3 separate regions of the Homo sapiens genome follow, and all the other regions are linked to region 1. Evidence: fine-mapped expression QTL. Tissue or cell type: whole blood. Region 1 holds a variant in brackets; each other region holds the start of a gene. All regions are shown on one strand. Distances are from middle to middle.

Region 1 (8,169 bases):
CAAGCTCAGGGGAGAATGGGACTGAGCAACTGGAAGGCAGGAGGGTAGAGGAGGCTCCTGAGGCTGCTCCAGAGGCCTTCCCTTCGGGGTATCATTTTCTGAGCCCCAACGGTGTACACACACAACACACACATATATACACACGTATATACTTACCTGGACATACAACACACACACACACAAATTTTTACACAGCACATAATAAGTGCCCAGTGACTCCATGCCGGTTGGTAAACTGAATCCAGCTCTTTCAGGCCTCTTTGTTGCTTAAACTTTTGCTGCTTCAGCTTTCCAGTTACACACATTCTTAATATTTAATGGAAACATTACTCATTTTCCCAAATAACAAGCACTGTTTTTTATGTCTTCTGTATTTGTCTATGTACTTCTACATGCATCTCAGACTCTCGATGGTGTTTTTCCTGCTGACCTGCCATGACATGGGCTTTGCATCCAGGCCTGCTTAGGCTGAGCTCACAAGCTGTGTGATGGAGCCTCTGCCCTGTCTTTCACAAGTGTCCTGTTGCAGGGGCTTGATCAGATGTGTCTGGGGAATTCCAGTTAGTCTCCCCCCATTATGGAGGCAGAAGCTCAGATGTCTTACTTCTCTGGGGCTCTCATGGGAACAGAAGGAAGGCACCTGCTTTTACTATTACTATATCTATGGTTTAGAGTTAGTTTGCCACATAACTAAAGATGTGCTGACAATTGTGGAGGATTTAGAAAGCTTCAGGGAAAAGTTAGGATAGACATTAAATTAACGCTAGCTACTTCCACCCGTATAGTTCGCAGATTACTTGGAAACAGACCTGAGTACACTGAAATTGAGGGGCAGCATGGTCAGTCCCCATTATTATATAAATTCAAGCAAGGACACTTTCTTCTGGGGAAGAGGTATGAGGGATCTTTTGCTGTGCCTCTCTCTCTCAGGACATCTCAATACCTTTGATAATTAGAGCTCTGAAGATGGATGGATTTATTTGCACAAAGAATCCAAGGGAAGGCACCTGAATCTCTACTGTCTCCCCCATGTTCAAACTGTAGGGGGACCCTTGTGGGCCCTGACAAAGGCCCAGGGGTGATCAGCAACAAAGTCCCTAAAGCAAGGCAGAAAGAGACAGTTCTGTGGATTGGTCCCTGCCTAGGTTGGAAGGACAGAGGAGGGACAATGATTCTGGGTCCATGAGGTTCTGATCCAAACCTGTTGGCAAACTTGTGCTCCAGGGAAGAGTTTTGTGAGTGAACAGAAGAAGCAGTAACTTTCCCAGAATGTTCAACCCACTGTGGACATTGGGCTCCTCATCTGGGTCTAATTTAACTCCTGGGAACGTGGCTGTACTTTGTACCTTCTTGATTATACTAGGCTGGTGGTTCTTAGAATTTAATGTGTATAAGAATCACTGGGAAACTTATTAAAAATGCCAAGACCTGTGTCCTTTCCCAGAGATTCTAATAGACTTTCCTGGAATGAGGCTCAGAAATATGCATGCTTAACAACTATCCCAGGTGTTTCTCATTTGGGTGGTCTGTGAAGGGCGTCTTTTAAAAAGCACCTTGCCTTCCATAGGGAATAGCAACCAAGATAGAGACCCAGCCATTCTTTTCTTACAAATGTTAGGGCTACAAATGGCACCACCATTTTACCCTGCTGCTGTGGGGCAGTGGCCCCTGGAGCTCTGGGCCCGGTCTCTCCCACCATGGCAAGGTGGGGAAAATACCCTGGAATTTCTGGGCCAGTGGATGAGAGATGCTGATCCTCATCCAGACGCAAATCTGGAATGACTGAAGATGCTCTTTGCTAAAGTTAAATCACTGATCACATTGTGGCCTGCGTACTGAGAGCTGAGGGCAAGTTCTTTCGAGTTTGGCATGTCTGGTATTCACTACTTTCTCTAGTGGAAATTCTGCAAATTTTAATTTGTGCAGGGATCTATGGTTTTTACTAGCCAGATCCTGGGGAAGGGACAAGAGAAAAAAAGCATCAGCAGCCAGGGAACTAATGAGAGAGATTGATTTCCAGGCAGGGCTGGTCTGCCTTCGCTTCTAAGAACAGTTTAGTTCCCAGTATTGGATCTCTGGTCCAAGATAAATGGTAGTCTGAGGAACTAGGCTGAAGGAGGGTGAGAGGGACCTGGTAATGAGCTTTCTAGGAAGCCTGGACCCAGAAGGCTTGACTAAGTGCTAAGGAAAGTGGAAGATCATGTCAGGGAGATAAATTGGTGAAAGCTGGGCAGCCCCCTCACCCCACAGTAGAAGTGATCATCTGAATGGGCAAGGCAGTGGGGAATTGCACTTTGAGGCAGAGTATAGAGATACACTAGAGGTGGAAACCAGAGGTGGGATCCAGAGCCTGGAAGAATTTGCAGATGCAGGAGATGTGATTCTGGTTTTCCATGGTCTTATGTGAGGAGGTAATCTGTGAGACACATGAGTGCTGAGCCACCTCAGGGATTTTGTGTGCAGGAAAGTTCACTTTACAGCTTAGTGGTATGGATCATGACAACCCAACAGAAGATATGTCCATCCAGAACCTGTGAATGTGATCTTGTTTGGAAAAAGGGTCTTTGCAAATATAATTAAGTTAATGATCTCAAGATGAGATCATCCTGGATTAAGGTGATCCCTAAATCCAATGACAAGTGTAGTGTCCTGAGACAAGGTGAAAGAGAAGTGGGAAACACAGAAGAGAAGGTGGTGTGAAAAAAATGAAGGCAGAGATTGGAGTAACTCATCTAGAAGCCAGGAGTGGAGGGATTGCTGGCAGCCACCAGCAGGAAGGAGCAAGTAGTGAGACATAAAACAGATGCACCCAAAGGGTCTCCAGAGGGAATCAACCCTCCTGACACCCTGTTTTTAGACTTCCAGCCTCCAGCACTGTGAAAGAATACATTTTTGTTGTTGTAAACCACCAGATTTGTGGTAATTGGTTAGGCAGTCCAGAGAAACAAATACACCTTGCCTGCAGTTCCCCCTGTTAACAGATTTGGGTTGTAACAGGGGGAATTGCAGGCAAGGTGTATTAGTTTTCCTGGCACCTTCCTTTGAAAATGCAAATACCTCACAAAAAATTAAGTGTATTAGCCATTCAAAGCAGCTTTTATTAATTTAAAATATTTTTATCCTTCTAATGACCTGGGAAATAGAAATAGTTGTGAATTACTAGGGATTGGAGGAGAAAGATCAGCGATCTTGGCATCAGACATGTCTGCTTTGGTCCCATTTTGTTACTAGCTGCATCAATGAGATTAAATGACATTTTAGTGCCCAGGAGTTTATGTAGTTTCTGAAGGTACTTTATTAATACTCAGGGAACAGCTATGGTTCTAGAAGAATGTTTCTCAGACTTGAGGAATGTGCAGTCTGAAAAGGAAAAAGATTGTTGTCGACTCCAGTTGATTTAACATTTTTGACAGTATGCTCCTTAAATAAGTATAACACAAAACAAAATAGACACATACTCACTATTCTTATTGCTTTTATGTATATATATGTATATATATATATATTTATAAAAGACCAAAACAAATTTACAAATCAAATACAGTAAAAACTATAAATAAACACTATAATGCACCCATTAATATGGAATGACTGAAGATGCTCTTTGCTAAAGTTAAATCACTGATCACATTGTGGCCTGGGTACTGAGAGCTGAGGGCAAGTTCTTTCGAGTTTGGCATGTCTGGTATTCACTACTTTCTCTAGTGGAAATTCTGCAAATTTTAATTTGTGCAGGGATCTATGGTTTTTACTAGCCAGAAATATGTTGTTACATTTGACTCTGTATTATTTTTTCTCATTGGTCTGTGAGAATTAGGACAGTGGGGCTTGTTAAACTCGCAGCCATAAAAATAAAAGCAAATATAGGCAGTGGCCATCTTTGTTATACCTGCTGAGATCGTGAAGATGATCCAGAACATGTCTATATTACTGGGTTAAGGTTAGCATCTTAATGAAAACACTACATCAAAAATTCTCATAATAATAATAATAATTGGCCACTAAGAAATTATCTTTGGACCTCCACGGGCTCACTCACCAGAGTTTGGAAGAAACACTAGTCTACGAGGAACTTGGTTATAATATATACATTGCTTTTTCGTCTTACATTTATTACAAACATAATACATATTCACTGTAGACATTTTAGAAAATTTAGATGTCAAAAGAAGAAAAACAATGTTATTTGCCATAACACAGAGAAAAATCACCATTAACATTTAAATATCTGTTCTTTCCCTATGCATACATATATATTTGTATACCCTATTTAAATTTGTTTTCACTTAGCAAAACATGAGAGCAGCTTTCCAAATTATGAAGTATTCCTCTGAAATAACATTTTTATTGTCTTCACTTCGCTAATTCTGTGTTTCTGTCAAAATGTAGTAAACAAGTCACCTATTCTCAATATTTTGATTGTTTCCAGTTTTCGGCCATGAGAAACTATGCTGAGTGTGCCTATTGTTAGCGCACTTAAATAAGTCTATTTACCTGTAGAATATTTTACTAGTATTAGAATTTCTGTACCAAAGAGAATGCAAAATTTAAAAGATTTTTTCACGTGTTAATTATATGAATCAAACATGTTAAAATGAATAAACATGTGGTGGTGATAACTTCATAGCTGAGTGGGGCTGCATGGCTTAGGTGACCATCAGAACTCATTCATTCATTATAGACTACTTTGGGATGAGAGCTGACTAATAAAATGAAAAGTGTTTAATATTATAGGGCATTTATTTTTTTACATGTAAAGGGTCTATTATTATTTTAACTAAATCAATGCATAACATTTTTCTCTTTAAAAGGTTAAAAAATAATTATAGATGTATACAAAGTTGCAAAAATAGTACAGAAAAGTCTCATGTACCCTTCACCAGCTTCCCCCAAAGGTAGCATCTTACTTAGCTATAGTACATTATTAAAACCAGGAAATTGACATTAGAATAATACTCTTAACTAGACTTCAGACCTTACTCAGATTCCACCAACTTTTACAGTCACTGTGGTGTGTGTGTGTGTGTGTGTGTGTGTGTGTGTGT[T/GTGTT]TCTGTGAAATTTTATCCTATATGGAGATTTGTGTAATGATTATAATCACAACAGACACAATAGAGAGCTGTTTATCACTGCGTGGGAACTCCCCTATGGTACCCCCCTTTGTAGTTACCACTCCCCTGGAAACCAGTAATCTATTTCTATCTCTATATTTTGCCCATTTTGGAATGTTACATAAACAGTCACACTAGAGCATATATTGTGAAACACAGTAACTTCAGACATATGTTCTAGGTTACTTTTTTATTTTTTTTGAAATAGAGTTTCTCACTTGTTTCCCAGGCTGGAGTGCAGTGGTGTGATCTCGGCGCACTGCAACCTCCACCTCCTGGGTTCAAGAGATTCTCCCACCTCAGTCTCCCTAGTAGCTAGGATTACAGGAGCATGCCACCACACCCAGCTAATTTTTGTATTTTTAGTAGAGACAGGGTTTCACCATATTGGTCAGGCTGGTCTCGAACTCCGACCTCAGGTAATCTGTCAGCCTCAGCCTCTGAAAGTGCTGAGAATACAGGCCTGAGCCACCGCACCCAGCCAAGATTACTATTTACTATTTGGATATCAAGATGGTTGTAATAGAGATAAGAAGGGATAGATGCCTCTTTGAAATCATTAAAACAAACAAAAAAACTTCAAAAGATAGAAATGTATTCTGTTTACTTTAGTATCTCTAACATCATGGATGATATTCATAATATGTAACAGCATTTATGAAACAAGTACTAACCAATCAGAATAGACACCAGCTGCAAATTACCAGTACAGCCGTGCCAGTGGGCACAGCTGAATCTCAACCCTGCCTACACCAGATCAAAAGGAGCAGGTATCAAGCACACATAAACGCATCTCAAAACACACTGCTTAACCCTAGCACAGTGCCAGCGAATGGTAGGGTCAAATACGGGTCTTTTGAATAAATGAGACATATCAGCCCTCTTTAATGGTTCCTCTAGCCCTCACCTCCAACTCTGAAGCTCTTCTGTGTGGTATTCTCGCAGCTAAGTAAGAATAGGCTATGGATCCTTCATAGTTCTGAGCACCATTCAAACAAACCCTAGGACAGAAGCTTTAGGTGTTATGCACTGGAATAAAGAAATCCAACCTGTGCTTGGTCCCATCACTTTCATGGACCTTAAGCTCTTCTCTTGTCGATAAAAATGATTCTAAAATTGTAACCAAGATTCAGACCAAAAAAATAAGAATGCAGAATTCAATCAAGTAGAAAAGACATTAGTTGAATCCAGTTGAGGCATGAAAGAAATTAACTGCAACTTGGTTAAAGGCGCAGAATTTCGTCTACCTAAATTAGGTGATAACATGTTGAAATAAGGTTATAATAAAAATTGATTGAAGGTAAAGCTTGAAATATGTTCTAGGAAATGTGTGACGTGCAGGGTTGTGAAACTAAACTCCAGCTGGAAGATATAGGCATGGGGTACCCTAATGACATTGCACACAGAACTCAACAATCAGAACGGGATCAGCTTGTTCAGTTAGAATTTGGAGAGAATCAGCTTTGAGGTACGTAGTGGCCAGGTCTCATATGTTGGTATTAAATTTGACAGGTAAATAAGTATATTGTAATGTGGCTCCACTGATAGAGTAAATGTTTCCTCCTAGATTGCGAAAATGACCTTACAACCTGTGGAGTAGAGAAGGGATAACATGAGCCAACCCTGTTAGCCTTAACGTTAAGCCTTAATGCTTTTGTGCTAAGTTTAGCAGTACATCTCATAATCATTCATTTTATTTGTGGTTATTTATTTTTAAAGGTATATTACTGAAACAATCTGACATATTAGAGTATCTGACAAATTAGCCTTGAGATTTTGATTTGAAATGTGTAATTACTATTAGATGTGTTATTTTATTTTGAAAGGAGTAAAAGACTTTGATTATATTTGTGAATTGGTTTAGAATATTTAAGAGACCAGCCTTAGACACATGGGTTGTTCGTCCTTTGTTGAAACCTTCTTCATTTGGTTCTTAGGACTCCACCTCCCTTTGTGGCTCCTTATTGCTCCTTTGTTGATTTCTCCTCTTTCTCCAACTTCAAGTTAAAGTGCCCAGGACTCAGCTTGCATCTTATCTTTCCCTCCTCTCTTACCCTATCATGTCTCATGCCTTTAAACACCACAGATGCACTGCAGCTTCCTTAATGCATGTCTCTTGCCTGAGTTGCACCCTGAATGCCTGACTTGGATATTCATCTTCTACTTGACATGCCTACTTGATGTCAAGGCATTTCAAACTTGACGTGTCAGAAGTCAAATAAATTCATGATCTATCTCCAACACCCTATCACCACTCCTGGCAACTTCTCTCAAGTCTTCTCCATCTCAGGAAATAGCAACTCTTCCTTCTAGTTGCTAATGCTGAAAATCTTGTAGTGATTTCAGGGGATTCATGGGTTTTTTTCTTACAATGTACATCTGCTCCATCAATACATTCATTTAATGCTTCCTTCAAAATATAAGATTCCTATCTCACTATGTCCACTGCTTCCATCTTGTTTGGACTAAGCTATTGTCATCTCTTTATTATTATTTCAATAGCCTGTGTATTGGTCTTCTTTCTTTGCCTTGATTCCCATACAGCAGTGAGAGAGGGATCAATGCAATGAGAGGAATCCTGTTAAAAGGTAAAGCAGGTCCTCCCTCCCCTTTGCTCAAAATGCTCCAGTGACTCCCATCTCACTGAGGGTAAAAGCAAAAGGCCTTACAGGCTATAAAGTCCTAGGTAATCTACTTTTTATAGAGAAAATTTAAAATGCAAAGAGAGATAGAGGGAATGAATTGAAAGTATAGCAATATCTCGGTCAAGGAAGAATTTCTACTTATAAGTTAAGACTGGGCCTGCCTTTTGGACCAATTCTTTATCCATTCCACTTTGTTCAGTAATTACAGCATTCTATGCTTTTATTTCTCTAGCATGCCCAGCCACATTTTAAGCTTTAAAGTCATAAATGTGAAACTAACATAGGCAGTAATGAAAAGTAATTCAGGAGTTATTCAGCACATCTTACTTTGTGCAAATGCCAAATCATAGGACTCTGATGTCCTTCAGTTAAGACCTTTGTATTTCAAGCACCTTCGTGTCCAGATTTACTGCTACTGA
Region 2 (8,169 bases), 230 kb after region 1:
TAAAGATTCACACTTACCAAAGAATTCCTTGGTGCAACCTCAAGCTACAAAATTGTTGCAAAGAATATTTACATTTACATTTTAAGTGCAAATACCTAGAGTGGAAAAATGTATTTTTGATCTGGATAGAGGACAATATTTTTAGGTCCTCCCCCACTGCTAGTAAATTTACAGAATTACAATACCCATAAGGAGCCAATAAGTTTTTAAATAGTGATGTTAAACTAAGTATGTTCAGGCATCTAAGGGGTGTTATGTGCTTTACAAAGAACTGAGAATGTGGTTTTAACAAAATGTTTTCACCCCATATACCACAAACACATGTGCAGTTTCGTATTTGGCTCCTGAGAATATGTCTTACAAAATAGGCCTCAAACCAACACCAAAAGATGACTATCTCTCCTGCTATATGACTGCATCCTGCACTGAGTTAGTTATTCAACAAATGACATTCAGTTATGGCCTAGAAAATATTTGTAGTAGAGACGGGGTTTTACCATGTTGGCCAGGCTGGTCTCGAACTCCTGACTTTGTGATTCGCAAAATATAAAAATTTAGCCTGGTGTGGTGGCGCGTGTCCGTAATCCCAGCTACTCGGGAGGTTGAGGCAGGAGAATTGCTTGAATCTGGGAGGCAGAGGTTGCAGTGAGCCAAGATCACACCACGGCACTCCAGCCTGGGCGACAGAGCAAGACTCTATCCCAAAAAAAAAAAAAAAGAAAAGAAAAAGAAAAAGAAAGAAAGAAAGAAAAGAAAAAGAAAATAATTGTTTAGCCTTGTTTTGGTTTTACTTCATAGTTTCCTGACTTCATTCATGAGGGAAAAGGAATGACACCCAGCAGAGCAGGCCCCGTGGAGCTCCTGCACTTGCAAGCACTCACACCCTGCAGGAAGAACTGGTATACACCCGTACACACAGGAAAGGCCACTGAGAGTCAAACACCACCAGCACCAATTTGTGAACTTTGGTGAGGTGTGAGGTATTATCGCAGGGTAGGGTTTATTTATTGTTGCTGCTGTTTACTGAGGTATAATTTCCACACAGTAAAATTAAACATTTTTAGGCACATAGTTCTCTGAATATTGACAAACTTAGTGATGTGACTACAAAAGCAATCAAAATTCTATCACATAAAAAAATTCTTTGTGCCCCTTTCTAGCCAATCCCCTCCCCTCACCCCTAGTCCTTGGCAAATGCTGATTTGGTTTCTATTTCCATTGTTGCCCTTTCTAGAATATCATATAAACAGAATCACACAGTGTATGGCCATTTGTGTCTGGCTTCGTTCACCTAGAAAAACGCTTTTGAGATTCATCCATGTTGTTGCATGCATGAGTTCTGTATTCCTTCTTACTGCCAAACAGTACTGCATTTACGGACACACTACAATTTGTTTATTCACTAGTTGAGGGACATTTGGATGGTTTCTAGCTTTACATGATTATGAATAAAGCTGCTGTAAAAAGTTGTTGACCGGTTTTTCAGTGGACGTCTGTCTTCATTTCTCTTAGATAAATACTCAGGAGTGAGATTCCTGGGTTGTATGTCACGTGTATATTTAACTTTATAAGAAACTTCAAAACTGACTTCCATAGTGGAAGTCCATTCCCACCAGCAGTGTATGATAGTCCAGCAATATATTATAGCTCTGAATCCTTGTCAGTATCAGATGTTGTCAGTTACCTTGATTTGAGCCATTTTATTAGTAATCCATCAACTTTTGATCTAGGCTGGGCCATAAAATTAAACTTTCTGCTAGCTATATATACTGGGTTGAATAAGTGTCCTTCCGAAATACACATTCACCCGGAACCTCAGAATGTGACCTTATTTGGAAGTAGGATCTTTGCATATGTAATTAAATTTAGATGAAGCCATACTGGGCTGAAGAGGGCCTTAATCCCAATGACTGGTGTTCTTATAAGAAGGCCACGTGACACAGGGACACACAGAGTAGAGCATCCTGTGACAGGAGAGGCAGAGATTGGAGCTAGGCTGCAGCAAGCCAAGGAATACCAGAATCCCCAGCAGCTGTTAGGGCCAAGCAAGGATTCTTCTCAGAGTCTCGGAGAGAGCATGGCCCTGAATACATCTTGATTTCAGACTTCTGACCTCCAGAACTATGTGAGAATACATTTCTGTTTGTCGTAAGTCACCCAGTTTGTGATAATTTGTTAAGGCAGTCCTAGAACTAAAACACTATGAATACAATTTACAGAATACAACAATACAAATAGGTTTATATTTGACTTATATAAAGCTTTCTGAGGATAAAAGCATAATAATTGCTTCTACAAAATTCATTCTAATTAGTTCAAGCATATCACTAGAAGCCTAATTTATTAATATGCATAAAAATTCTTGGGCTAAGTTTTTGACTATTCTATAATTCAACATTTCACTCATTGGACTGAACTTCTGCTAATGAGTCAAGATTAGTGAAGACCACTGTTTATCATGAATTAAGAGCAGTGCAGAAGCAGAATCCCAGTGGTTCCTATCTATGGCCATTGAATATGTGAGACCCACATTTTGCAGAATGTTCTACAAAGGATTAAAAGATGAACTTTCTTTTAGTTTAGTCATTTGTGGTATAATGTACTGGAATGCACCTTTAAAATTTTTTAATTGTAAAATTATGTGTTTATTTTTCCTATCATGAAGTCTAGTTCTGAAAAACAAGACTTCTGTGGTAGAGCCAGTTCTGGTTGTTTCTTAAAGAACAGATCCCTTTTCAGTTTTAGCACAAAGCTCTTCCAGCCCCTGACGAAGAAAATTGTCCCTCTCTCAACCTGTATTAGACTTCCTTGGGGAGGCAGAGGGATCTCCCTCCCCACCTGACCCCAAAACCTTTGAAAGAAAGAAGTTGGTTATTCTGTTACACTATTATTCAATTAGAATTCCACTAATTTAATAACAGAGAATAAAAGAATAGTTACAGTCAATAGCAGGTTGTGGTTTCTGCTGCTAAAACTTTCTGAAAACCTATTGCAAATAGACAGATACTGAGGCAACAATAAGACAGGAGGGCAGGTGCAGATGTGGGAGCAGGAATCTCATGTTTTACATTCATTCCTCTATACTATGTAAACCAGACTTTCTCCCCATGAACAACATAAGGTAATAGCAAGCCTATCAGGTGAACATTAGATATCATTATATGGACTTCTGGGAGGAATCTGGCAGTCTTATGAGCACTTTTCTGTGTTGTGCACTGTGGTTACCAGCTGTACCATGCCTATTTCACAGGAATAGCTGGTGAATATAATCATAACTTCCATAAAATTTGCAGAGCAAAGCAGGTTGTCATCCAAACAGAGTCCAACAATGTTCAGTGATCCGAACAAAAGTCAGGCCCATTTTCACCACTCCTGCTCTCTGATAAGCGTACATTGTCCTTTGAGTGTTTTGGGAGAGCACAGAGTTGACCTATTCTGGGGGACAAGGACTTACAAGATTGGACCACTCTGTTCCAAGTTTGGGCAATTTCAAAGGACAGGGCTTTGGGGAATTGGAACAACTTGTTCAACTTCATTGTGTTTGGGTCTCACTAAACATAGAAACCAGCCTCCCTCTTAATCCCCATCCCACGTGTTGAAAACCATAAACTCAAGTTACCACGAATAAAAGGCCATGGAAGAGTGCCCAGATGCCCTTCGGGATGGGATGACCCAGTTAGGAGGTAACAATGTTTGGGGTTGAGATTGTCCCTCTATTAGAAGCAGACAGAGAAAAAGCTATGACCAAAATGTTTGCATGGCTTAATTAAATATCAACAGATATCTCTATTCACTTTAAAGCTCCAGCACACCAGACAAGGGATCCGAGCTCCGGGCAGGAGCCAAAACCACCATTGCAGATATGCTCCCAGTTTTACCAGCTAATTAGATGTTAAACTTACATTGTAACAATCAACCTGATATTATTGCCTACTGCAGATAGAACTAGAATTCTAATTAGGTCAGAATTCTAGCTGGGATTGTGTAGATGGACAAATTCTTTCAGGGTAGTTTGATATCACTGCTATAATTTATGGTAAAGACAGTTGGGATCATACTGGCAAACTAAGTACCTGCCTACACTCCCTCAGGCCTAAAAATGCCATTGATTATCCCAAAAAAACTGAGAAAATAATCCACTACAGTACGGAAAAAGACAAAATAGGGGCACTAACACACAAGAAGCACTGAAGGCTTTCTGAAAGAGTAATCAGGCCTGATGTTTGTAGTTTTAATGTTTACTTTGCAAACAAAGGTAGAAACAGAGTCTGGAGCTCGGATGCCACCACCAGAGAGGGTGGCTGTTCAGCCTCTCTCCTGTGCAAATTAACCTAATTCTGAACCTGTCTTGGTTTAATTCGCACAATTTCAGGTGCCATGCTAGGTACACCACAAATATACCTCAGGGACCTCAATTGCAAAAACCTGGACTGCAAACGTTGGGGCTGCAGAGTTGACTAGGTTAATAAATTCTTTCTGAGGTAAAGCAGATAACACCCACTAATAAAAAGAATGAAACTTCATCGTCCCATTGGCATCCTCGGGTGTGCAGGTGTTCCTCAGAGCAAAGCCCATGGTGTGCCCCATCGCCAATTCGTGACAAGGCAGGGGGCGGGGGGCGGGGGAAGGAAAAAAGCCTGGGATAAGAAATCAGAGAATACAAGTCGCTTTTAAACAAAAAACAGTGACTGTTAGAGTACACCCACCATTGGGGTAACACGCAATAATCTCTCAGCATCACTGACTCCAGCACAGCTGGTCCCCTGGAAAAGGCACGTTGCCGGAAGGTTTTGTGTGTGACCAAGCAATTGGCCATCCCACGCCTTCGCCCTACCAGATGGGTCCCTGCCCCCGGGAGTCCCCTCCCCCTCCACCCTCCAAACCCAGGCAGCGCCCGCCCCTGCCCCCGCTGATTGACAGGCCGTGCAGCTACTCCTGGGAGCCTGGCTTTCGGGGGCAACCCAGGCAGAAGTGACTATCTCTGCAGCAGCCAATAGAAGCCAGGAGGCGGGGCGGGGAAGCGGCGCGGTCAGGTGCTCCGCTCCAGAGTTGAGCGCAGGTGAGCTCCTGCGCGTTCCGGGGGCGTTCCTCCAGTCACCCTCCCGCCGTTACCCGCGGCGCGCCCGAGGGAGTCTCCTCCAGACCCTCCCTCCCGTTGCTCCAAACTAATACGGACTGAACGGATCGCTGCGAGGGTGAGTCCAGGGGCGTGGGTGGCTTCCCTCCCGGGAACCCACACTGCTCCTCTGGGTCCCTAAAGCAACGTCCCCTCCTTGCCACTGCACATCTAAGAAGCCCAGGCCTCGGTGGGCGGGATGACTGGGAATTGGGAACATAACCTACGCCGCGACCATTCTGGGTGGCTAGGATGGAATCCTGGTGGAGAAGATGGACACCCCCGCCCTTGACGTCTACCCGAGCTACACAAACCTACTCCTTCTGCACTTTCCCTCTTCCGTTTAATCGGTGCCCCGTCCTTCCTGCTCTCCAAGTCTGTTTGTGGAGGAAGGGTTGGAGGGGAGAAAGAACTGGAAAGTACTCAATGAAATGTGGAGCCAGATCCAGGGATTCCACTGTTTTGTGCAGCATTTTGTGCACGAAAAAAAAAAAAATTCTGATTGTTTTCATTCCCCACCCCCCACCTCTGTTTATTGCTCTGTGTCATGGATGTGATGTTGAGTCTTCTTGCCAAACATTCCTAAGCTTTAGACAACACTTAATCTTTGCTTACTTTTGTTGGTCCCAAGAAAGCAGTTTTCTCCTGCTTACACATGTGCCGAATTAATTTGCTAAGATAGATGAAAATGAGGTGTTCCATGTAGTTTATTTCCTCTGCTTTTAGCCTTAAATTACATTTGGTTGATACTAGCCTTCCTTGTTTTAAAAAGGTGGGAGAGAAAATTAGGGGGAGAAAGGACAGAGAGAGCAACTACCATCCATAGCCAGATAGGTGAGTAAATATATTTGCAGTAACCTATTTGCTATTCCTTGCTGCAACTGTGTTTAATGTTCCTTCCAGAATCAGAGAGAGTATTGCCATCCAAGAAATCGTTTTTAAATATGACATTTGAGCTATCATCTTGAGACCAATACCTAAAACAATTTCAGTTTAAGAAATGTCTAGGTATGGTGAAAACACAGTTTAAAACCAGCAAAACAGAATTTATTGCCCTCAGCGAATACCCACAATGTACATATACCTTGTATTTCTGAAAGCAAAGCAAGCATGCCAAGTAGTTTTTATTTACCTGTACCTATAATACAGCAAGGTGAAACAGGATATATTTTTGAAGTTTAAAAATGTCTTCAGGCCGGCTGCGGTGGCTCATGCCTGTAATCCCAGCACTTTGGGGAGCCGAGAAGGGTGAATCACCTGAGGTCAGCAGTTTTGAGACCAGGCTGGCCAACATGGCGAAACCCTGTCTCTACTGAAAATACAAAAATTAGCTGGGTGTGGTGGCGGGCGCCTGTAGTCCCAGCTACTTGGGAGACTGAGGCAGGAGAATTGCTTGAACACGGAAGGCGGAAGTTGCAGTAAGCTGAGATCGTGCCACCGCACACCAGCTTGGGCAACAGAGTGAGACTCCCTCTCAAAAAAAAAAAAAAAAGAAGTCTTCAGCTTAGGAAGATATCAAAAGGCAGTTTCAAGAGATTTATTTGTACAAGTGTGGTTTGATCTAAGTTTTGGTGGGTTTATAAATACCTTCATGCAGGAATGGGTAGAAAAATGAGAGAACAAAAGATCCCTGCTGGATGTGCACGCCTGATGAAAACTGACAAAATTTACATATCTATTGTTTATCCATACAGCGTCTTATTAGCTTTCTTCAATAGAATGAAAGTATTTTAGAAATATACACAGATTAGGGGAAAAGACCAGCAACCTTGATTCACAGAGCTTTAAACCAGGGAAGTGCTTTTACTACACCTATCAATGATAAGATTAAATTTTGACAAATTTTAACATTAGGAAAGTCAACAACAAATTTCAGAATTATATTTCTGTTAATATTTAGTTTAGAATCTAATTATTTAGTTCAACGAATGCTGTGATTTGATTATTAATAAATGAATGCAGATTACTTTTCAATAAATATATCTGGATGTCACAAATGTTATTTCACTTCAAGAAACCAAATTCATCTATTTTCCTCTCTCTTTAGTAATACATCTTTTGTCTGTGATTAACCAAACATAGGGGTTGAAAATAGAAGTGTGCATATACATATATATATAATATATATGTATATGCACCATTATTCGATTTGCTAATGATACTTCATTGTTGCTAGGTTGCCATAGTTGCTCTAGCCATAATGTTAAGGATGTTCACAGGTATTTGACTATAAAAAAGTTTCTGACCAGAAGTCAAAAGTCTGGATCAACCTGAAAATGTTTCTAAAAGTTTTATGTAAATGATGTCATATTTTAAAATGCTGTTGAAGAGCTCACTTAAATAATTCCTTTGAGGGATATTTAGATAAATTCTCAGAAGTGAAAAAGTTGTTTAAATGCAGCTAAACTTATTAGCTTTATTATTCATTTAGCCCCAGGTCTCTTATCTAATACGGAGTTCTGTGACATAATTCTTCCAGGCTGTGATTTATGAATATAACTAGGATTGCTAAGCACTGTTACTCTGAGTTTGGGGTAAAGTATACAAAACAAAATTATTGCCTTTAATTTCTATATGTTTATTCTACAGATTATCTTACACTGAACTGATCAAGTACTTTGAAAATGACTTCGAAATTTCTCTTGGTGTCCTTCATACTTGCTGCACTGAGTCTTTCAACCACCTTTTCTCTCCAACCAGACCAGCAAAAGGTTCTACTAGTTTCTTTTGATGGATTCCGTTGGGATTACTTATATAAAGTTCCAACGCCCCATTTTCATTATATTATGAAATATGGTGTTCACGTGAAGCAAGTTACTAATGTTTTTATTACAAAAACCTACCCTAACCATTATACTTTGGTAACTGGCCTCTTTGCAGAGAATCATGGGATTGTTGCAAATGATATGTTTGATCCTATTCGGAACAAATCTTTCTCCTTGGATCACATGAATATTTATGATTCCAAGTTTTGGGAAGAAGCGACACCAATATGGATCACAAACCAGAGGGCAGGACATACTAGTGGTGCAGCCATGTGGCCCGGAACAGAT
Region 3 (8,169 bases), 380 kb after region 1:
TATAAATTACCAAAAGAGGAGAACTGAAGTCTCTAACTATAATTCTGTATTTCTCTTTCTCCTTTCAGTTCCATCAGCTATTGTTTCATCAATATTGAAGCTCTGTTATTAAGTATATATGCATTTAAGGTTGTTCTATCTTCTTGGTGAGCTGGCTCTGTTATTATTATTATTATTATGTAATGTCTCTATTCCTGATAATTTCCTTTTTCTGAAGTCTATTTTGTCTAATAGACTTACATTAATATATGTTTATATATTATTAATAATTATATTAATTTAGAGGTTAGCTTTCTTTTTTTTTTTTTTTTTTTTGAGACGGAGTCTCGCTCTGTCGCCCAGGCCGGACTGCGGACTGCAGTGGCGCAATCTCGGCTCACTGCAAGCTCCGCTTCCCGGGTTCACGCCATTCTCCTGCCTCAGCCTCCCCAGTAGCTGGGACTACAGGCGCCCGCCACCGCGCCCGGCTAATTTTTTGTATTTTTAGTAGAGACGGGGTTTCACCTTGTTAGCCAGGATGGTCTCGATCTCCTGACCTCATGATCCATCCGCCTCGGCCTCCCAAAGTGCTGGGATTACAGGCGTGAGCCACCGCGCCCGGCCCAGCTTTCTTTTGATTAGTGTTTGCATGGCAGGGGCTTTTCCATCCTCTTACTTTTAATTTATCAATAACATTGTGTTTGAAGTGAATTCTGTAACAGCATATAGTTGGGTCTTCTTGTTGCTTTTTTATGCAATCCAACAATCTTCAGCTTTTAATTTATGTGCTTAGACCATTTATATTTAGCTTAAGTATTAATATGGTTATATTTAGGTGTACCATTTTATTATCAGTTTTCTATTCTCTTCCTCTTTTCTGCCTTTTAGATTATTTGAATATTTCTTGTCATTCCATTTTAGCTTATCTGTTGGCTTTTTTTTTTTTACTATACTTTTGTTTTATAACTCAAATAGCTGTTTCTTTAGGGATTACAATACACATACCTAGTTTTTCTCAGGCTACTTAGAGTTTACTATATCAAGTAAAGTATATAAACCTTACAACTGTATAAATTCCTTGCCCTTTACCCTTTATGCTGCAGTGGTCATATTATTGAATCTAAATATATTAAAAATGCTATCAGATATGTTATAGTTTTCACTTTCAACAGTCATACAAAAATATGAATGTCACACAGATTTGCATGTCACCCTTTCATTGGAGCCATGCCAATCTTCTCTGTATGGTTTCCATTTTAGAATATGTGCTGCCAAAGTGAGCACTAAATGTGTTTTTAAAGTACTTTCCTGGTAAAAATTTATTCAAAACTTGCACCACATTTGTGAAACTATGGGCTGGAATTAGACATATAGTGTTTTTCTCCAGACAAAGCTAGAATTGACTCTAACCAATTATTCTTTAACATTAAAGGGTACAAAGTAAAGTCCTTTTATCTTGAGCTAAGGCATAATATGAAATTGAAAATGGAAAATATGCACAGAAATAGTTTATGACCAAAGAAGAATTATTTTTTTTGCAGCATGAAGCTTTATAATATCAAAACTATAAGTTATCTGCAGGGATGTCCAAATGGGAGATATTTCCTATAAAATGTTATTGAAAGAGATCTGTCCAAATTTACAATAGCAGTAGATATTTGGAGAAGATAAAATGAAAGTTAACTCTGATAGGTTTGGGATTAAGGAAAGAGAAGTCATACCACACATTGTTTAGATCATAGCCAAGGAAATGATCGAAAATACGTGTAACACATTTTTCATTAAAACAAAAAACAAAAAACCAAAACCCTCGAAGACATTTTATGCATATAATTTTATTTGCTACTGCCACATTGCCATTAAGAATATTGCCTACACTTCAGTGCAGGGATGTTCTGAGTCTGTGCATCATGCAGCGAAGGCACCAGTCTCCCTCTGTAACCTTGGTCCTTCCCTAAAGTATGTAGTCATTGGTGCAGAATGTACAGCTGTGAAGGTGACTGTTTCTCTAAAGGCTTTGGTGATGTAAGCCTGAAGCCAAGCAGGAGGAAAGCAATTAAACATCACCTTGATTAAGTTATAATGTACCAAGAGAGTTGCACGTTGGGCTTGGTGACTGCTTTCTTCAGGAAGGAGGAATTTGCACTGAGAGTCTGTGGGGACACAGCCTGCCATAAAGGGTAGTGAGGACATCTTTCCCTTTTCTTTGCCTATCAGATGCCTGACCTTTCAGGAAGGTTCAGCTAAAGTGCCTTTTGCTCCATGAAGCCTTTTCCTCTCCTCACCCCAACCATGGTAAATAGTATCTTTACGTGACAGCTTGTATAGCTCCTTCATCTTCCCAATTCATGTGGCAGCCTTAGTTTTCATTTCATGTAACTATTATTCTGAAAGGGATTTTGATCTCTGTTAAGACCGTTAAAACCATGCCTTTGTTTCCTCAAAGTGTGCACTTCCATAGTGTGCACTAAGAAAAGCAGTTTGTAGAGCAGTTGAGAGGACAGGCTCAAGTCTGTCTGGGTTTAAATCCTGACTTCACCATTTCCTAGCTGAATGACTAGGGATAAGTTACTTAAATACTTCATGTCTCAGTTTCCCCACTTGTAAAATTGGGATCATTATACTATTTGTAAATATTATACAAGTTCACACATGTAAAGTGCTCAACATTTTTGCCTAGCACATAATAAGTATTATTACTTATTTTTTTATTAAGCGATAAATTTTTTAATAAAGCTATTAAACAAATACATGTTTTTAGTAAGGAAGGACATAGCACAAACAGGATTAATTAAAGAGAAGGCAAAGAAGACAAAGAGAATTCCACCAGATTCTGGTGCAAAACATTCAATAATTATTTTTTAAAGAACTGAAGGGTGGGAATGTCTGTTGGTGCAACCACTTTAGAAAACCTATGGCAGTGTTTACACAAGGAGAGCATTCTTATACACTACAACTCAGCAAGTCCACTCCTAAGTATACATCCAAGAGAAAAGTGTCTGTGAATCCAACCAAAAGATGTTTGATAGAGAGAATGTTCGTGACAGAGTAGTCATGATAGTCACCTGCACAAATGTCCATTGACAGAAGAATGAATAAGTAAGTGTGTCGGTGAAAATGGATGATACACAACTACACATAGCACAATGGATGAATCTCACAAACATAGTAATGAGCGAAAGAAGCCAGACACCAACATTCCAGGCAAAAAGATCCTATGCTGCTACAAGCCAGAATAATGGTTACCCTGGGACAGTGGAGACGGGAGAAAAGATGTGGAGAGGAGAGAGCAGGAGGAGCTTCTAGGGCTGTGGCTAACATTTTATTCTTCATCTGGCGCTCGTTACATGGGTGGGTTGGATTGTGAAAATTCATTGAGGCATACACCTAAGATATGTGCATCTTTTCTGTGTTTGCATCCTACTTCACTAAAACAACCAGAAGAGAACGGGAATGAAGTAAGATCAGAAAATAAAGGAAGAAATAGAAAGAAAATGAAAGAAGGGAGAAGAAAAATAAACAAACCCAGAAGGCTGAAAGGCATGGAAGCCGCACCTGACCGGGTTGACTCACCCCTCTGCCCCAGGAGCCACCCCTGCCCTGCCCTGCCCGTCCCCAGCACCCTACTCTCCTTTTGCTTAGCCCAAGGATGGCAAATGCCCCTTTTGGTGGGGGTTCTGAGCATCACTAAGACAGGAAGGGCTTTCCAAGTGGGTAAGGCTGGTAGTGGAGTAACTCGGAGGAGCTGACGCTTTATTAAAGAAACAGAAGACTTGAGAGCCATCTCCTCTCTTCCTTCCCCTTCCCCTTTCCCCTTCCTCTTCCCCTTCCCCTTTCCCCTTCCTCTTCCCCTTCCCCTTTCCCCTTCCTCTTCCCCTTCCCCTTTCCCCTTCCTCTTCCCCTTCCCCTTTCCCCTTCCTCTTCCCCTTCCCCTTCTCCTCGACTCTTTCTGCCTTCGCCTCATTATCCGCCCCCAGGACATCCTCTTGGCCTTGGTGGCTTTGCCAGGACCAGCTCTGTCTCCGCCTCCTGCCCTGCGGGGTCTTGGGGCGGGGGGCCGTGGCCCGGCCCAGGCCCGAGCTGCCGGGGTGTCCCCGCCGCGTCCCCGCCCGGCTGACCCCGCCCTGCAGCCGCCGGCTATTTTGGGCGCGTTGGCGGCGGCGGGATCGCTGACAGTCGCGGATCCTGTGACACCTCCGGGCAGCCCGGCACTTGTTGCTCCCACGACCTGTTGTCATTCCCTTAACCCGGCTTTCCCCGTGGCCCCCCGCCTCCTCCCGGCTTCGCTCCTTTTCATGTGAGCATCTGGGACACTGATCTCTCAGACCCCGCTGCTCGGGCTGGAGAATAGATGGTTTTGTGAAAAATTAAACACCGCCCTGAAGAGGAGCCCCGCTGGGCAGCGGCAGGAGCGCAGAGTGCTGGCCCAGGTGCTGCAGAGGTGGCGCCTCCCCGGCCCGGGACGGTAGCCCCGGGCGCCAACGGCATGACAGACTCGGCGACAGCTAACGGGGACGACAGGGACCCCGAGATCGAGCTCTTTGTGAAGGTAGGTCGGGGTCCAGTCTCCCGCCGCACCTGCCGCGCCTCCCGCCGGGCTCACCCACCAGGGCTCGGGGTGCGCTGGACTCCGGACCCTCCCAGGAGGGCGGCGCGGAGCCCTGTGCTCCCCCGTGGCCTTTCCGCAGGCCAGCGCCCCGCTGCGAGGCTCCTGGGCGGAATGGAGGAAGGCAGGTTCCGGCAGGTGGCCGTCTTCTCGGAGAGTTGATCCGCAGTTTGTCCACCCCCGTCCCCGCCTCCGCTGTCACCGCTGCGAGTCCGAGTCCAGAGCCCAGCCCGGACGCGATTCAGGCTGGTCCTGAAAGACGTCTCCAGGTGTCGGGATGCGGCAGAAACCTGGCTGGACCCGTGAACCTTTCCTTTAAAACGGGAGGAGGGGGAGGAATGGGAGAGAAACGTTATTGACACAATGATCTTTGGCAAAGCGAAAATGACATTTCTTAAAATTCTCTTTCTCTCTTTCGCTCAGAGATCCTAAAATAAAAGCCAAGGAGACAAAAGTGTTTTCTTGCTTGGTGACTTGCAAAGCAGAAAACAAGCACTCCATTCTCCGACGTTATTATTTTTGTCATAATCATGATTTTTCAAGGCAGTATCAAGGAAATGTTAGGCGTTTGGTAGTAGGGAGAGCCTCCCGTTCAACCTGATGCAGACAGGGATGAAGGAGCACAGTGCAAATTAAATGAAGTCACCTTGCTCCTTGGACAGAAACTGCCTAATGTCAGAGCTGCTGTACTTTATTTGCAACCTGTAGGAGGAAGGATGGAGGCGAGGCTGCGGCGGCGTTTCCCGGTCCGCCGGTGTAAGGAGAAAGAAACATTTGATCAGCCCTTGGTGCCGACGCTGCAGAAGTAGGGAAACCTGAGGCTGCGGGAGAGTAGCCTCCAGGGCTGAGCAGAAACAGTCGCCAGGACTTGGGGGAGGGGAAGTCGGGGACTGCCTGGGCGCCAAGACCTTTCACAAAGGGGGAAAACTCTCTCAGTGCAAAGTTTCCCTAGAAATATGCAGATCGCTGAGAAGGGAAGAGTCACTGGTGCCTGTCAGGGGCCTCCTGGCAGAATTTAAAAGGCATAAATATTCCCTGGAATTGGGAAAATGTTATTTTGCCCAAAAGATCCTTCTCTACAAGCTAATTAAATAGATGTTTGCAAAAAGTATGAGATCTACATAAACCTTGATAACAATCTGTGGTCTTTGGTACTTTCTGACTCTTAAAATGTGACTTACTTTACACTTGGTACGTGATCTGTCTCCGTTGTCCCAGCCTACCACAAAGGTTTGTTAAATTTCTTCTGCTGGGTTTTACATTCTTTGTGTTTATTTTTCAAGCTTACACCTGACATTTAGTGACACTTGCTTTCTTCAGCCTGTTCTCTTCCCACTGTGGCCCCTGTGTGCTCCTTTGGTTTCTGGGACTCCCCCCACCCCCACCCCAGGCTGGATTTCCAGGTCCTTTGGCAGACCCAGGTAATAAAGGAGGTCATTTCTCGTCTGATGCTGGGTAGTGTTGGACCTTAGGGCAGCAAGGGGGTGTTCTGAACCCCAGCATCCAGGCCTGGGCCCTAGGGGTGAATAGGGAGAGCTTTAACAAAGCGATGAGTCTTGCTGCTCTCCTTGAAGAAAGCGATTCTAGGACTTACTCAGATTCCTTGAGAGTGGTAGTTTCAAGGTGTCAAGTTTCTGAAAGATATTTGAAACACAAATAGGTTCTTTAGAACCAAAGGAGCCCTTTGCCCCACTCCTAGGTGTGGAGACCGATTCTACCTGCACCTTTGGAATTTTCTTGTTGGCAGTGTTGGAGAGTCTCTCCATTTATATAAAAACCTTACTGCACAATTTGCAGCGTTCCCCAAATAATTCTAAAATGACTGTGTTGTCATTTGTTTTTTCCCTAAAGGAAATCAATGAGAGCCAGGCAGGCCTTCATGGCTAGCTCAAAAACCAGATTGATGGGGAGATCAAAACATCAGGTATGAAAGTTGTTTTGACTCCTCCCTCAACCCCATCTTTTTGAGCTTCAGGTTAGCAGTTCTCATTTACAAGTAAATGGGACAAGTAAAGGCTAGAAATATTGTGAAATAAAGATGCTGCCCAGGCCTTACTTGAACTGTGTCATTTGAGGGAAGCAATATCCTTGTTGACAGAATCACACTTTTCCAAAGTTTGGAGTTTCTCTGAGGTACATGATTCCCCATAAAAAGAAAGGCCTTCTTGTTGATGGTGTCAGGTAACTGAAGCTCTTTCTGCAGGGCAGGGTGGGTTGGTTTCTATGAAGACTTCCAAGAAGGATGGGTCCCACCCAGTTATAGTCATGACTTGGTCATTTTCAACACCCCCTTGGAAGGACCTCCCAACCTCTTGTTTCCACTGGGTGTACCACTCTAAATCACAGTCACCTAATGAGTTTCACAATGACATGTAATTGTAATTGTCTCCCACGTCAATTGATAGTCATTATCTGTTACTACTACTGCTGATAATGATAATGATAAGAAGAAGGAAAGATTGCAGCATATTAGGACATAATAAGTATGTTCAAATACCTTATCTCATTTGATCATCAGCAACTTTATAAGGCTTGATTCACTTATGTGAAAGATAAAGAAAACAAATAAACTGGATTCACAGGTACCTTATGAGACTCGCTGTCAGAGCACTTGATGAGCTGCAGTTTGCTCTTCTTGTAACAGCCCAGGGAACTAAGAATGATAATTCCTCCTGTTCTGTTGAACAATACATGTGCTCACAGAAAGTAGGTAAAATGCCCAAAGGTAGATGGCAGATAGCATTCAGATCCAGTCCTCAAATCTAGCAGTTTAGACTTTGAATTTCTTGCTCTTTTCCAAATACCTATATGTCAGGCCTGATACCTTATTTTGCCAAGTTAGGCTTTCAAGTGCCATCATGGTGACATTTATTTATGTTATTAATCCATTCTAATGTGTTCATAGAATGCTTCCAAGGAGACTAACCCATTTCTGCTATGTACTCCGAGTCTTTCCCTTTCGGGGAACATTCTGACAGTGACTTTTAAGAGATTATTTCCCCACATTTTTAGTTTCTACAATAAGAAATGTTAGATCATGTCAACTCTGATTCTAATGTCCCATAATACCTGTGGATGGCGCAGGGATTTGGAGATGCAGTACCTGAGTTCAAGTCTTGCCTCTGCCTCTAATTAGCTAAATGATCCTGAACAAATTATTTAACTTTCAGGAGCCTCACTGGCCCTCTTAAAACAAGAGCATGGTTATAAATAAGGAGACCATATAATTTATTGTCCAAATCTAGACACTTTTGAGAGTGAAAGGGAATGATATCAATAATTAGGCTGGAACCACAGGTATAACCCAGGATAGTTTGGGAGCAAATAAGGATGTGTGGTCATTCTGGTTATGAAAATACTGTCATTGTAGATTTGCTGTGAGGATTCCATGGGAGAACATAGGTGAAAACACTTTGTAAATTGAAAATTGCTGTAAACACACTGACTTGAATATTATGAGTCCCATGGCAGACTGAACCTTTCTGGACCTGCACGTCCCTGATTTGCCTTGGGGAACAAAGGCCTGGCTCCTTCCTCACTTGCAGGGATATTTTGAGAGTAAATGAGATAATATGTAGCTTGGA

What was found. PIP is the estimated chance that this variant, and not a neighbour inherited with it, causes the effect.
Region 2: it holds the start of ENPP5, and the variant in region 1 is fine-mapped to the expression of ENPP5 in whole blood (INTERVAL, PIP above 0.99).
Region 3: CLIC5 starts here. The variant in region 1 is fine-mapped to the expression of CLIC5 in whole blood (INTERVAL, PIP 0.92).

The regions. Positions count from the first base shown.
Region 1 is chr6:46,394,249-46,402,417 of GRCh38, reverse strand. The region is part of intron 2 of RCAN2 (regulator of calcineurin 2); the gene reads left to right. Among named protein-coding and RNA genes, the nearest start is that of RCAN2, 93 kb to the left of the region's middle. The variant T/GTGTT (reference allele first, on the strand shown) is at 5,046.
Region 2 is chr6:46,167,834-46,176,002 of GRCh38, reverse strand. It overlaps ENPP5 (ectonucleotide pyrophosphatase/phosphodiesterase family member 5), which reads left to right and starts at 5,023. Exons shown (of 5, transcript NM_001290072.2): 1 at 5,023-5,195; 2 at 5,889-5,950; 3 at 7,706-8,169. The coding sequence starts at 7,741. RefSeq lists a silencer at 4,792-4,851.
Region 3 is chr6:46,011,839-46,020,007 of GRCh38, reverse strand. It overlaps CLIC5 (chloride intracellular channel 5), which reads left to right and starts at 4,148. Exons shown (of 6, transcript NM_016929.5): 1 at 4,148-4,528. The coding sequence starts at 4,466. It also overlaps the pseudogene RNU6-754P. RefSeq lists enhancers at 3,346-4,190, 4,191-5,035 and a silencer at 4,448-4,497.